Linked DNA regions of Homo sapiens: all the other regions are linked to region 2. The links come from fine-mapping of genetic effects on gene expression. A gene starts in region 2. Each other region holds a variant in brackets. All regions are shown on one strand. Distances are between the middles of the regions.

Region 1 (4,243 bases), 37 kb after region 2:
GAAAGACTTGGAAATGTGTAAGGTGACAGTCAAGAGAAATGGGAGTTTATGGTGACCGAGTAGGATATGGATCAAGGTAACCACCAGCAATGGGTGTGAAGCATTGCATATGAAAGGCTAGTTAACAGGATGTATTTTAAATAGACCAGGTTCTTGCCCTGTATTTACAAGTGATGATTTTTAAAACATTTAACTTTCCGTATTTTTTGCATAAATGATACATGTTCATGGTTCAAAATTTTAAAGTACAAAATGGTATAGACTGAGTGATAAATCTCCTCCTCACTCCAGCTGACCAAATCCTTTCCCTGAAGGCAGTGAAGTATCTTCATAAAACTTTTTCTGTTATTTACATATATAGAAATATGTTTTATCCTCTTTGATGCAGATGGTTACATGCTCCAAGTCCATAATTGCTATCCAAAACTTTTTGGGTCCAGATATGTTTTAGAATTCAGAACTGGATTTTAGAAAAGCAACATGTTGCATATAATGCAGATTACATAATATCCCCAGGGGGTCTGAGCACACCAAGTAATCAGACACATTAATTCTCCAGGGAAACTGAATAATCACACTAGGTGGGATAAAGAAGAATCATAAATAGCCTCATGTCAGTTGCATTCAGGTGTTACTGTCAAGTTTTGACACTAAATTTATAAAAAGGAAATATTGATTTTTAAAGCTTTCAAGATCTTGGAGTTGCAGATAAAGGATTCTAGCTCAGAAAACACTGCATCCTAGGCTTTTTTTTAATTTAATAATATACTATATATTGGATTTCATTCCATATCATTACATAAAGAGCTTCCTCATTCTAGAAGTAGTACCGGCTCACATGCTAGACTTCTAGAAAATATTTTAAATACATATAGTATTTATATGTAGTATTTATATGGAAAAATTCATAAAGTAGATATAGTATTTATATGGAAAAATTCATGTATATGTGTGTGTATGTGTGTATGTGCAGTTAATAGCAGAATCAGGTCTAGATCAAGTCACTAACTTTGAGTGTAAGGCTCTTTACAACACCATAATGCCTGTTGGTTTAAAAAAAAATCTCCAGTTAGAAATAGTAACCATAGGCTAGGCGCAGTGGCTCACGCCTGTAATCCCAACACTTTGGGAGGCTGAGGTGGGTGGATTACAAGGTCAGGAGTTCGAGACCAGCCTGACCAGCATGGTGAAACCCCATCTCTACTAAAAATACAAAAATCAGCCAGGTGTGGTGGCACCTGCCTGTAATCCCAGCTACTCAGGAGGCTGAGGCAGGAGAATCACTTGAACCCGTGAGGCAGAGGTTGCAGTGAGCCGAGATTGCGCCACTGCATTCCAGCCTGGGTGACAGAGTGAGACTTTGTCTGAAAAAAAAAAAAAGAAAGAAAGAAGAAATAGTAACCATACCAGCACATACCGGTCTATGAAAAAAAAAAAAAATGCAGCTTAGCCAAGCTAGTAGAGTAGTAATATACAATATTATAATTTGTTTAGTGTTGGGGGAAAAAAGCCTTAAGAACTAGAACTCAATTTGTATTATTCCTTATGAGAATTCTTTTGCCAGGTAAACATATTCAGATTTATTTATAATATCATTATCTTTATTCTTTGTAGGAAAGTTGCTAGTCGGAAAGGCTGTTTCAATAATGGAGACGCTTTTTTTAATTGGTGTGTCAGCAGATGACTGAAAGGAGAAAGCCTTGTAATAGCATGCACAGTTGTCACCGTGCACCGGTGTTTCAGCAGAGAAGTCTGACTAAATAAGGCAATGCCCAAGTGAGCCTTATCAGCGTTTGACCGGAATACAGGCTAGCTAGCTGACATACACCACCCAGCCACTCTCTCCACAATTCCTTAACTTCTCAGCAGATGTGCATTCATCACATCAAAAGTTACTACCTACAGTGCTGGAAGATGTTGCACCTGCATTTTATTTTATAAAAATTTGAATAAGAATGACACATAAGTCTCAAGAGAGG[A/G]TAAAGGAGAGAGTTCAGTTTACTGTTCCAAAAATGTGTTATGCATGTAAGCATACTTATTTTTAGTGATGTGTCAATAGAGAGTTTGTTTAGGAGTTCATTCACCAGCCCTGGCTCCTGAGGGCTTTTTCCCCAACCACCACAGCCCTCCCCAGCTGGCCTGAGGTTAAGAGACAGGAGGACTCCTGGGTCCAAGGGAAGGAAATTTGCAATCACTGCCACCCCTTGAATCTCCTGGGTGGAGGGGAGGAATGTAAGGAAAAGGAGAAAGTCTCAGACTTTAAATCCCATCCAAGCGCTACTTGCCACTGTTCTTTTCATTTCCTCCATCTCTTTGCTCTGTGGTGTTTATATTCTGCCAGTCTATATATTTATAAAAAGAAAAAGGAGCATTTTTTATGGGACTAAATCCAAGAGTTCAATTCTAATGCCAACAAGTACCACTTTCAGTGTATGTTAGTATTCAAGCTGCAATCTGGGCTTCTAATCAGGGCTTGGGGAGGGGGAGCTGTGTGTGCACTCAGCACGCTGTTAAAAGAAGTTTCTGAAACTGATGATTGTATATTATGCCACTATAAGATAAAAATAGAACTAAAAGATTAAAATGAGTGTGTGGAGCCAAAGCTCTGAGTTAGATTCATAACTTGTATTCATCCTCTGCCTACCTGTATTTCTGCCCATCTTTCCTCCTTCTCACCTTCCTTTCCCTTTTCTTAACCTTTCAGTGTAGAAGGTTGATGTCATCACAGCCCTCAGTTTCTGGCTTTCTGTATGCAACCATCAGTGCAAGCCCCTCTCTTGTGCTCCCTTTTTCCCATTCCCCTCTATAAGCACTCAGTAATATGTTTATTATATGTCATTGATTATGTAGACATTGAAAAATGTAGTGTTGTTTTCTATATTTTTAATTTATATAAATGACACTATGCCACACAGGCCATTTTCTTTTATTTATAATTTAAAAATATATATTTAAGATATTAATAACATTTTATATTTTACATGCATTTTAAGTTGTATTTATATGTACTTTCTGCCACTCAGCACAGTTTTAAGATTTATCCATGCAGCCATATGTACCCCTGGTGCATTCTGACTGCTGCATGGTAAAGTCTACATACACGTTTTACTCGCTGCTCCCCTAATAACCCCTAACACCCTACTGTCACAAGCATTGCTACAATAAACACTGTTTAACTGTGTTTTAAAAGTCAAGATGCCCTTCATTAAAATACCTCTAGTAAAATATTATACCCATTTAAATTCATTTATTATGTTTAAATGACACATATAATTGTACATATTTATAGAGAACAGTGTGATATTTTGATACATGTATACAATGTGTAATGATCAAATCAGGGCAATTAGGAAATCCATCACTTCAAACGTTTATCATTTCTTTATGTTGGAAACGTTCCCGGTCCCCTCTTGTAGCTATTCGAAAATGCATAATGAATTGTTAACTATAGTCACCCTGTAGTGCTATAGAACACTAGAATGTATTTCTCCTACCTAGCTGTAATTTTGCCTCAGTTAACCTCCTCTGGCTATCCTCATCTCCCTCCTAACTTTCCTCACCTCTGTTAACCACTATTTTACTCTCTACTTCTATGAGATTAACTTTTTCAGCTTCCGCAAAAGAATGAAACCATGTGGTATTTACCTTTCTGTGCTTGGCTTATTTTCAAATATATACATTCTAAAACTCTTAATTTAAAATGTTTTCCTGCAGTTGAAAAGACTGTTGGTACCCACCTCAGCATGCATATTCGTGACATCTCTATCCTAATGGCACAGAAAAAAACTTAAAGCTTTCCAATAGGGTATGGAATACATTCTGTGGTTGGGCAGATCGCTCCAAGTGTAATATTTTAGAATAAAATATTCACACATCTTTTGAATAACAGCTTTGGGTCTTTGATAGGGAAAACTTGGTGGAAGGTCTAGACTAGTAGGCATGCAAGGGGGACTAATCTTTTTCACACTCAGTGAATATCTCAGTGATTTAAGGTAGTGGAGTGTGGGAAGAACACATGCTTTGGGGTCAGGCAAAGTCTTGACTCCAACTTGGGCAAGTAAATTAACTTCCCTGATCCTTGGTGTCTTCATCAATAACTTTAGGATACTGATAGGGAAATCAAAAGGATTAGGTAGGTTCATGTATGAGCTGGATCTTATGTAATGCCTGATGCATAGTGATCCTTCCAACACAGGGAACTATGGAACATTTGGAAAGTCTCCTAAACTCAGGTTGGATTAGA
Region 2 (4,243 bases):
CCTGGCAACTCTGCGGGCAGTGCCATGGATGAGGGCTTCTAATTCTCTTTGGTGATTTGGTTCTGCATAAACTGAGATTTTTCTTTCAGTCTTTCAGCCAGATAAGTAGGAAAGGTCGGCTCTCGTCCTGAGAGAGAGGCAATCAAGGTCAATTTCAGTTCCTTTTCTGTGCAGTTTAGTCTACTTTTTCCCAGGCTGTCTTCCTGACACCTGTCCTTATATCTATATCTGATTATCAAATACTTAGTGAGAGAACCTTTGGCAGCTTCTGATGCTCGCATAGTCACCCAAAGGCCTCTCAGCCTAAGAAATAGCAGGAATACACTCCAAATCAGTTTCCTTGAGAGGCCAAACTAAGACCCTAGGCTGTGAAAGTGGGAGAAGTTTCTCCCGTGGGTATTTTGAGGGTGAGGTGGAGAATAATGCTTTCTCTCACCAGAGGCAATGCTGATCCAACTTGCCTATTACCAAATCTCTAATTTTTGGTTTGGCACTGCAGCCACAATATACTCAGTTATTACCGAATATAGAAAGAGAAAGGCAAATCTTGTTAGTCCCATTCAGAAGATGGTGAAATGGAGGTTTAAAAGTTTAGAAGAGTTGCCTAAAGTGAATTCGACAAAGCAGTGTTGTAGCTAGAAAGTAGACCAGCTGACATCTGTCCCTGGTTTTGTAGGTCACAGTTTCTTTGCAAGTTTAGAGCAGTGCTTTACTTACCATATTCCTCCTTGCAAACCTCTATTTACTTTCTTAAACAGTGGATACCAGTGGAGAGGTGTGCATTCCAGACACTTATACAATGTACACAGACCGAGCCGTCTACCTGTTGGGCACACAGCTCCAGGCTCAAGAATCTCTAAGGCTGTTAAGAAGCACAAACGAGGCACGAGAGGGGGCAGGCTCTAATGTAAAAGGAATATCCTGTACCACTGCAAAGGCCGATTGAAAACATCCTCTTCATCACTATTAATAAAAAACTAACCAATATATTCTGTGCTTTTTCAAACTGTACTGCTCACCCTCAGTGTCTTCATTAAATAAATGCAAACACGTGTGCTTTGAAACGGGTAGGTGTAAAAGAACACTCTGCACAATTATATCTAGGCTGCCGCAGATTTACATCACATGCATACATATATCTAGGCGATATTAATTCACGATGACAGCTGAGCATGACAAATGCAACAGTACACAAGTTGGAATGCGAAAACAATGCAACTACAAACCCCATGCAGACAAACACGCATACAATGAGTTTTCCCTCAACACACACGTGGCCGCACTCACAGGAGCTTAACCACTTTGAAAAACCCCAAACACAAACACCGGGGGCTCCGGCGCCCGCGAGCGGCCCCCACACAGGCAGCCGCGCCTTCATCTCCAGGCAGGGATTCTCGTGCGTCCCCGGGTACACTCGCCCTCCCACCGGCATCCCACTGCGCGAACACATGCGCGCCAGCCGGTCCCCGCGCGCGCCCGCCTGCCGAGGAAGCGGCGGCTCCCGGGGCTGGGGGCAGGGCCCGGTGGGGCGGGAGCGCCGCGGGGCCGGGCCTCGGCGCCCGGGGAGGGGACGAGGGGCGGGCGCGGGGCGGTGCCCGGCTCACGTGGGCGGGCGGGAGCAGCTGAAGGTCCGCTCGGGAACCTGGGCTGTCCTCTCGCGCGCGGCGCTGGCCCAGGCGGCGGCGGCGAAGGAGGAGGAGGAGGAGGAGGAAGGCGGCGGTGGCGGCGGCAAAAGAGGAGGGAGGACGGGGGCGGCGTCGGACTGGAGCCGAGCGGCAGCGCGAGCTGCCCAGGGCGCTGTCGTGAGCTCGCCCGCCGGGCCCCCACCCCCGAGCTACACCCTGCCGTGCCCAGCACTGCCCGCGTCCGTGCCCCTGCGGGGAGCGCGCCGGGGCTGCCCCCCGAATGACGGGCGGAAGGTTCGACTTCGACGATGGCGGCACCTACTGCGGCGGCTGGGAGGAGGGCAAGGCGCACGGGCATGGCATCTGCACGGGGCCCAAGGGCCAGGGCGAGTACTCGGGCTCCTGGTCGCACGGCTTCGAGGTGGTCGGAGGCTACACCTGGCCCAGCGGCAACACCTACCAGGGCTACTGGGCGCAGGGCAAGCGGCACGGGCTGGGGGTGGAGACGAAGGGCAAGTGGATGTACCGGGGGGAGTGGTCACATGGTTTCAAGGGGCGCTACGGGGTCCGGCAGAGCCTGTGCACCCCCGCTCGCTACGAGGGTACCTGGAGTAACGGGCTGCAAGACGGGTACGGCGTGGAGACCTACGGGGACGGAGGTGAGCGGCGTAACGGGCGGCTCGGCTGCTCCGCGAGCTGGTGCGGTGGGCTCTGCCCCGGCTGCGGGGAAGCGGGGAGGACGCCGGGCGCACGTGTCCGGAAACCCGCCAAAACACCTGGGGGCGCCTCCCACCCCCGCGCCCGCGCCCGCCTTTCCCAGAGAGGGCGCTGGGACCGGACTGGGGCGCGAGGGCTGGATCTGACCCCGTTCTTGGAGCGGGCCGTGTATCCACACTCAGGGGAGCTAGGCGTGAATGTACCTGGCCGGCGCCAGCGCTGCGCTGCCACCGGGAGGGAGCGCCGCCCGGGAGGGTTGGGCTGGAGAGAGGACGCTGTCACTTGAGCCCGTCACATTACGTTCCTGATCCCTCCCTCTCCCGGCCGGGTTTGAAATCGCCACTCCCGTGGAGTTAGAGCGAACACCCTGAGCGGGTGAGGTTGGCGGTCCGTGCTGACCGCTCCCGGGATTGGTTTCACGTGGAGTCGTATTTCGCTTCTGGTCCTCCAGTAGCCTAAAGATAGAAGCCAGAACCCCGTAACTAGGATGTTGGGGAATTGTACCTTATTTGGGGGTGCATTTGGAAACGTCCTAGTTATGGGAGCAGAAAGGCCACCTGATGCAGGTGGAGTTCAGAGTGTGTGAGTTCCTAGTTTTCATTCCGTTTCTTAAAGTATTGGTCTTAAAAGAGTAGCAGTCTTTGCTGACCTGGAGATCTTGGACAAATTACTAGGAAGATATTTTAGAAATGGGTAATGAAGTCTACATTTTAAAGAATACAATTAGCAGGTGTGTTCCTATAGCTGCTAAGTTAGCAGCTACTACTCCTGAGAATGGCAATACTGAAACAATAATTTGCATTATGTGTGACCTAAGCCAGTATTCCTGGCTGTGAACAAAGATCACCTTATTTTAATATTTAACAATATTTGCCAAAGAGATTGTGTATATACCAGGACAGAAGTTCCTCTTTTATTAGGAAAAGTATACATTATTGAAACAGGTGTCAAAACCTGATGAATTTCCTTGTGTAATACGCTGAGAAAGATATTCATGAATAGCTTATGCTTTAGCAAAGTGCATTTCCTGATAAACATAATCATATTTAGTTGAAAAGGGTTGTAGGAGGCGACATCACTTTTTGGAATTAAGCAGCTCAGAGTTGGAGGATATTAAAGGGATGCAATTAAAAGTTTCTCCAGCCCACTGCAACCCCATTTATACCATTGCTTATATAAAAGCTTACACAATTTGTACACTTCACTTAGTCAGAACACTTGGGCCGTGTTTCAAATGCAAAATGGCAGAATGGTAGAACTTGCTAAAAAGGACATCTTTTCATCCTACAGTATAAATTAAGCATATGGTTCTCATGGATTAAAAGAAAAAAACGTTCTCTAATAGTTTTATGTGGGGCTGAGTCCCGAGTTTCACAGTAGTTAATTGGGACCCTTAAATGTTCTGAATGGGCATAAAGTACCTGGTTGACAGCGCTGTAAATATGTCAGTTTGTGACTGGATTTTGTTGGAGGCCCCAGCTCTACTATATAACTAAATTCCATGCTCAAAAGTAGAAGGCAAAATTTATTGTTTTAAATGTGTGCATTATTTTATAATCTTTTAAGAAGGCCAGGGATGGTTCTCTTCAGTTTTGGAAGGTTAAAAATCGTCTCCTTTTAAAGATACTATTCATTAAACACACTCTCTTGGTTTAGAGTATTCATTATACCTAGTAATCAAAATATATATAGCACAGTAGAGGCTGTCTGTGTACATGTCGTAGAAACCCAAATAAGTCTCCAGAATGATTTTATGAATAATCTGCCTTCAGTTTTAAAATAAACTTAAAAAAAAACTTAAAACTTGGCATCATCCTGGGTGGTACTGTGGTTTTCTTCTTCTACCAAAAAAAAAAATCTAATATGCTACAGTTAGGAAGAAAAACCTTAAAAATCACTAC
Region 3 (4,243 bases), 28 kb after region 2:
TCTAGAAATAGAAAGGGGAGAAAAGCTTTCCAAGCAGAGGGACCTGCAAGGGCAAAAGCATGGAGGATTAGGAGCTCTCATTTGTTTCTTCCCTGCTAAAGTGCTATTGTCATTCAAACTTATGTAGGTCCAGGGCACAGAGAAGCAGCATGTGTGGTTAGTGGTAAAGCACACACTCTGTGCCACCAGACAGTCGTTTAGACCCTGGCCCTGCCAATGCTGTGAGTTGGGCAGATGGCCTAACTGTTCCACGTCTCAGGCTCCCTCATCAGCAAAATGGGAAAAGAACAGCAATAGCTACTCAGAGGACCATTGTGAAAATTTAAAGAGTCAATAAATTTAAAGTAGAAAGTGGACACTAAATATTTCATGTTAGAGTAAATGTTGTGATCATTTGAACCAGCATTTTCCAAATGCCTGCTCTGTGTAAAGCAAGTACACATTTTGGTGCCTTGGGAGAAACCAAAATGAAAAAGATACGGACTCTATCCTTCAGGAAATTTATAACCAAGAGACAGATGAATATGTAAACAACTAGCAATGCAGCTTGAAGTTAAATAATAGCTACGTGGAGGTTCAGACAATGTGTGGGAGCATCACCAAAAAAGAAATTTGTTCTGAGGAAGAGGAAGAATTCTTGTGAGAAGAGAGATTGTTGTAGAATTTGTGCCTAGTGCTCATTTTGACTTGCTTTGTCTTGGTAGTACGTGAATCAGGACAGGGACATCCGGGCCTGCTTTTGGCCCTGTTTCCTCACCGTGGCCGACTTTGTCTTGGCTTGTCTCTGGTCTACCTGGACAGTGTTCAAATGCTTCACTTAGAAATGAAGCTCGAGAGGTGAATAAGGTAGGTTTGATTTATCAGTTTTATTACTCAGCTGCTTGAGAGAAGTGCAGAAAGAGCAGGAGCTGAGGGCAGGTGGCACGTGGGGAACTTTATCTTCAATGAGAAGAAATCAGGCTACAGAGAAGTCCCCAGGCCCTAGCTGTAGAGCACATTCACATAATTGCCCTTGTGGCCATTCATGCTCCTGCCTCCCACATTCAGAGGAGTTCCCTCAGGTGTGCAGGATTTTCCCCCACCACCAGCCCCCAAGGACAGACCAGAGTGACGCCTGCATTGTGTTTTGGAAGTCGGGGCTGAGATGAAGGCAGCCCTTTCCTGCAGTGAAGGGGGACCCTGGTCTGCGCTCTACAAAAGAGACACCCCATGCCCAACCTAGGGGCTGCTGGCTCTTGAGTGGGAGGTTGGTGTCAATTGGCCCCCGGTGTCTTTGTCTTCCAAAAGTTGGGTCCAGACTATCCTATTTTTGCCAGAAATATCTCACAGGCAGTGGTCCAAGCCTGGCATAGTCTCATAGTTTCAGCTCTGATAAAGTGCCCTCCCCTCTTTATGGTCAGTCTGGTCCTGGAAGGAGAAGTGGTAAGTCAACTCTAATTCAGTTATGGTTGCCAGAAATCAAAGAAGTGAATGTGAGCTGCATCACCAAGTATTACAGAAGGCAGAAAAGGCAAAGCATGCCTATAAAATCTTTAACATGACAGCCTGGTTTTTACTCAGAGAAATTTAGGGAATTATTTTGAAATATTTCTGCATGATGGGGTAGTGGTTCGTTCAGCTGTGCAACTTGAGATCTTGGTTCTGTCACTTTAAGTGGCCTTGAGCAACCGGTTTCACCTCTCCAAGCCTTAGTTTCCCCATCTGTAAAATGGGCATGATAGTTAGTGGCACCTCCTCACAGGGTTAGAATGAGTGCTTAATGAATTGGTGTGTGTTAAGTGTTTGGAACGGTGCCCAACGCTAGTAAACTCTGTGCAGGTGGAGCTCTTACTCTTATGGGGTCACATCAAGAGATTTTTGGTGAATTTGTTTTCCTGCTGCCACACTGGGCCTATCCAAGGATATAATAGTGTCTTTGAGGCATTATCCAAGGCTTTTGTGAAATACAGGTCATAATATATATTTTTTCAGTTACTAGATTAGTAGTAGAAGTTCATTGGCTCTCAGGTCTCTGAGAAAGATAGCTGTACAGGTTCCTACCCAAATTCTGGAAAAGAGTAAATTATTTTCTCCTAATACTTTGCATACAAATATGAGGAA[G/A]AATCCCAGCCTGTGGTTTGTATGACCACACCTCTGTTTGACGTTCCCAAAGGCTGCTCTAGGGTGTGTGCAAACTGTGGCTATAAAGACAGATTTCTTTGATGGAGGCTTCCTTTTTAAAACTCAGACCAGCCTGATTCACCCCTGCCTGCCATCTGCTATGAAGTTTAAACAGCTTTGAGCTGAACACCTGTGTCTTTGTCTTGCTTTTTGCCTTGCTAAACAGGACTTGATTGGATTTCCCTTTTCAACACAATTGCCCACCTACACATCTACATTTCTGTGTTGCTACCTCATATGGCTTTGATCAACCTGTTCAGAAGAAATAGCCAGAATTTAAAGTATGAGAAAATAACATTAAAGTTAGGTAGGAAATTCTCCTTACACTACTTTTCTGTTTGTTTGTTTTTTAACAGCAGTGTGAAACGTCTGTGTTAAGATTATTAAAATATCTTCATTTTACCCGTTTGTAAGTGTGTCTGTTTAGGCTTTAAGGAAATAACTGAAGCCATTCTTTTCCCCCATATGCAGCTGGGTAACTTGTAATCTGCAAAATGGCATCAGAAGAATTAGGTAAAACACAGGAAACACAGGGAGCTAGAAGTCAGTGACCACAGACCCCTCCGCAGTGTGTATTAGTGGCAGTTCATGGAAGACCTAGACCAAGCCCCTTGCTTATTGGCCGTTTGATGTCGCTTCCTTGAGTAGACACTGCTGGGTATTCAGGGGGTTCCAAGTGAGCATGGAATAATGCCAGCGCTCAAGTGGCATATTAGTTAGTAGTGGAACATTCCACATCACTGTGATACAAGGTGGAGAGTAAGTGCCATGTGGGAATCAGTTGTGTTTTTCAGAACGTTTTTTTCTGTTTAATTTTTTATTATTATTATACTTTTAAGTTCTAGGGTACATGTGCACAACGTGCAGGTTTGTTACATATGTATACATGTGCCATGTTGGTGTGCTGCACCCATTAACTCGTCATTTACATTAAGTATATCTCCTAATGCTATCCCTGCCCCCTCCCCCACCCCACGACAGGCCCTGGGGTGTGATGTTCCCCACTCTGTGTACAAGTGTTCTCATTGTTCAATTCCCACCTATGAATGAGAACATGTGGTGTTTGGTTTTCTGTCCTTGCGATAGTTTGCTGAGAATGATGGTTTCCAGCTTCATCCATGTCCCTACAAAGGACATGAACTCATCCTTTCTTATGGCTGCATAGTATTCCATGGTGTATATGTGCCACATTTTCTTAATCCAGTCTATCATTGATGGACATTTGGGTTGGTTCCAAGTCTTTGCTATTGTAAATAGTGCCACAGTGACATTTGCGTTGGTTCCAAGTCTTTGCTATTGTCAATAGTACCACAGTAAACATACTTGTGCATGTGTCTTTATAACAGCATGATTTATAATCCTTTGGGTATATACCCAGTAATGGGATGGCTGGGTCAAATGGTATTTCTAGTTCTAGATCCTTGAGGAATCGCCACACCGACTTCCACAATGGTTGAACTAGTTTACAGTCCCACCAACAGTGTAAAAGTGTTCCTATGTCTCCACATCCTCTCCAGCACCTGTTGTTTCCTGACTTTTTAATGATCGCCATTCTAACTGGTGTGAGATGGTATCTCATTGTGGTTTTCATTTGCATTTCTCTGATGGCCAGTGATGATGAGCATTTTTTCATGTGTCTGTTGGCTGCATAAATGTCTTCTTTTGAGAAGTGTCTGTTCATATCCCCACTTTTTGATAAGGTTGTTTGATTTTTTCTTGTAAATTTGTTTAAGTTCTTTGTAGATTCTGGATATTAGCCCTTTGTCAAATGGGTAGATTGTAAAAATTTTCTCCCATTCTGTAGGTTGCCTAGTCACTCTGATGGTAGTTTCTTTTGCTGTGCAGAAGTTCTTTAGCTTAATTAGATCCCATTTGTCAATTTTGGCTTTTGTTGCCATTGCTTTTGGTGTTTTAGTCATGAAGTCCTTGCCCATGCCTATGTCCTGAATGGTATTGCCTAGGTTTTCTTCTAGGGTTTTTATGGTTTTAGGTCTAACATGTAAGTCTTTAATCCATCTTGAATTAATTTTTGTATAAGGTGTAAGGACGGGATCCAGTTTCAGCTTTCTGCATATGCCTAGCC

Alleles and levels. Positions count from the first base shown, and alleles are read on the strand shown. Sizes are in standard deviations (SD) of each study's normalised expression. Not every link is listed here.
For the expression in aorta of the gene that starts at base 1,653 in region 2, G is the high allele of the variant in region 1 and A is the other (small effect, 0.22 SD a copy in GTEx).

What was found. PIP is the estimated chance that this variant, and not a neighbour inherited with it, causes the effect. A credible set is the group of variants that fine-mapping cannot tell apart.
Region 1: its variant is the best candidate, but not a certain one, in a credible set for the expression of JPH1 in aorta (GTEx, PIP 0.86).
Region 3: its variant is the best candidate, but not a certain one, in a credible set for the expression of JPH1 in nasal epithelium (TOPMed, PIP 0.60).

Annotation. Positions count from the first base shown.
Region 1 is chr8:74,281,967-74,286,209 of GRCh38, reverse strand. All of the region lies in intron 2 of JPH1 (junctophilin 1), which reads left to right. Among named protein-coding and RNA genes, the nearest start is that of JPH1, 37 kb to the left of the region's middle. RefSeq lists an enhancer at 3,991-4,243. The variant A/G (reference allele first, on the strand shown) is at 1,980.
Region 2 is chr8:74,318,950-74,323,192 of GRCh38, reverse strand. It overlaps JPH1 (junctophilin 1), which reads left to right and starts at 1,653. Exons shown (of 6, transcript NM_020647.4): 1 at 1,653-2,284. The coding sequence starts at 1,906. RefSeq lists a silencer at 1,503-1,602 and an enhancer at 1,696-2,586.
Region 3 is chr8:74,290,918-74,295,160 of GRCh38, reverse strand. All of the region lies in intron 2 of JPH1 (junctophilin 1), which reads left to right. Among named protein-coding and RNA genes, the nearest start is that of JPH1, 29 kb to the left of the region's middle. The variant G/A (reference allele first, on the strand shown) is at 2,101.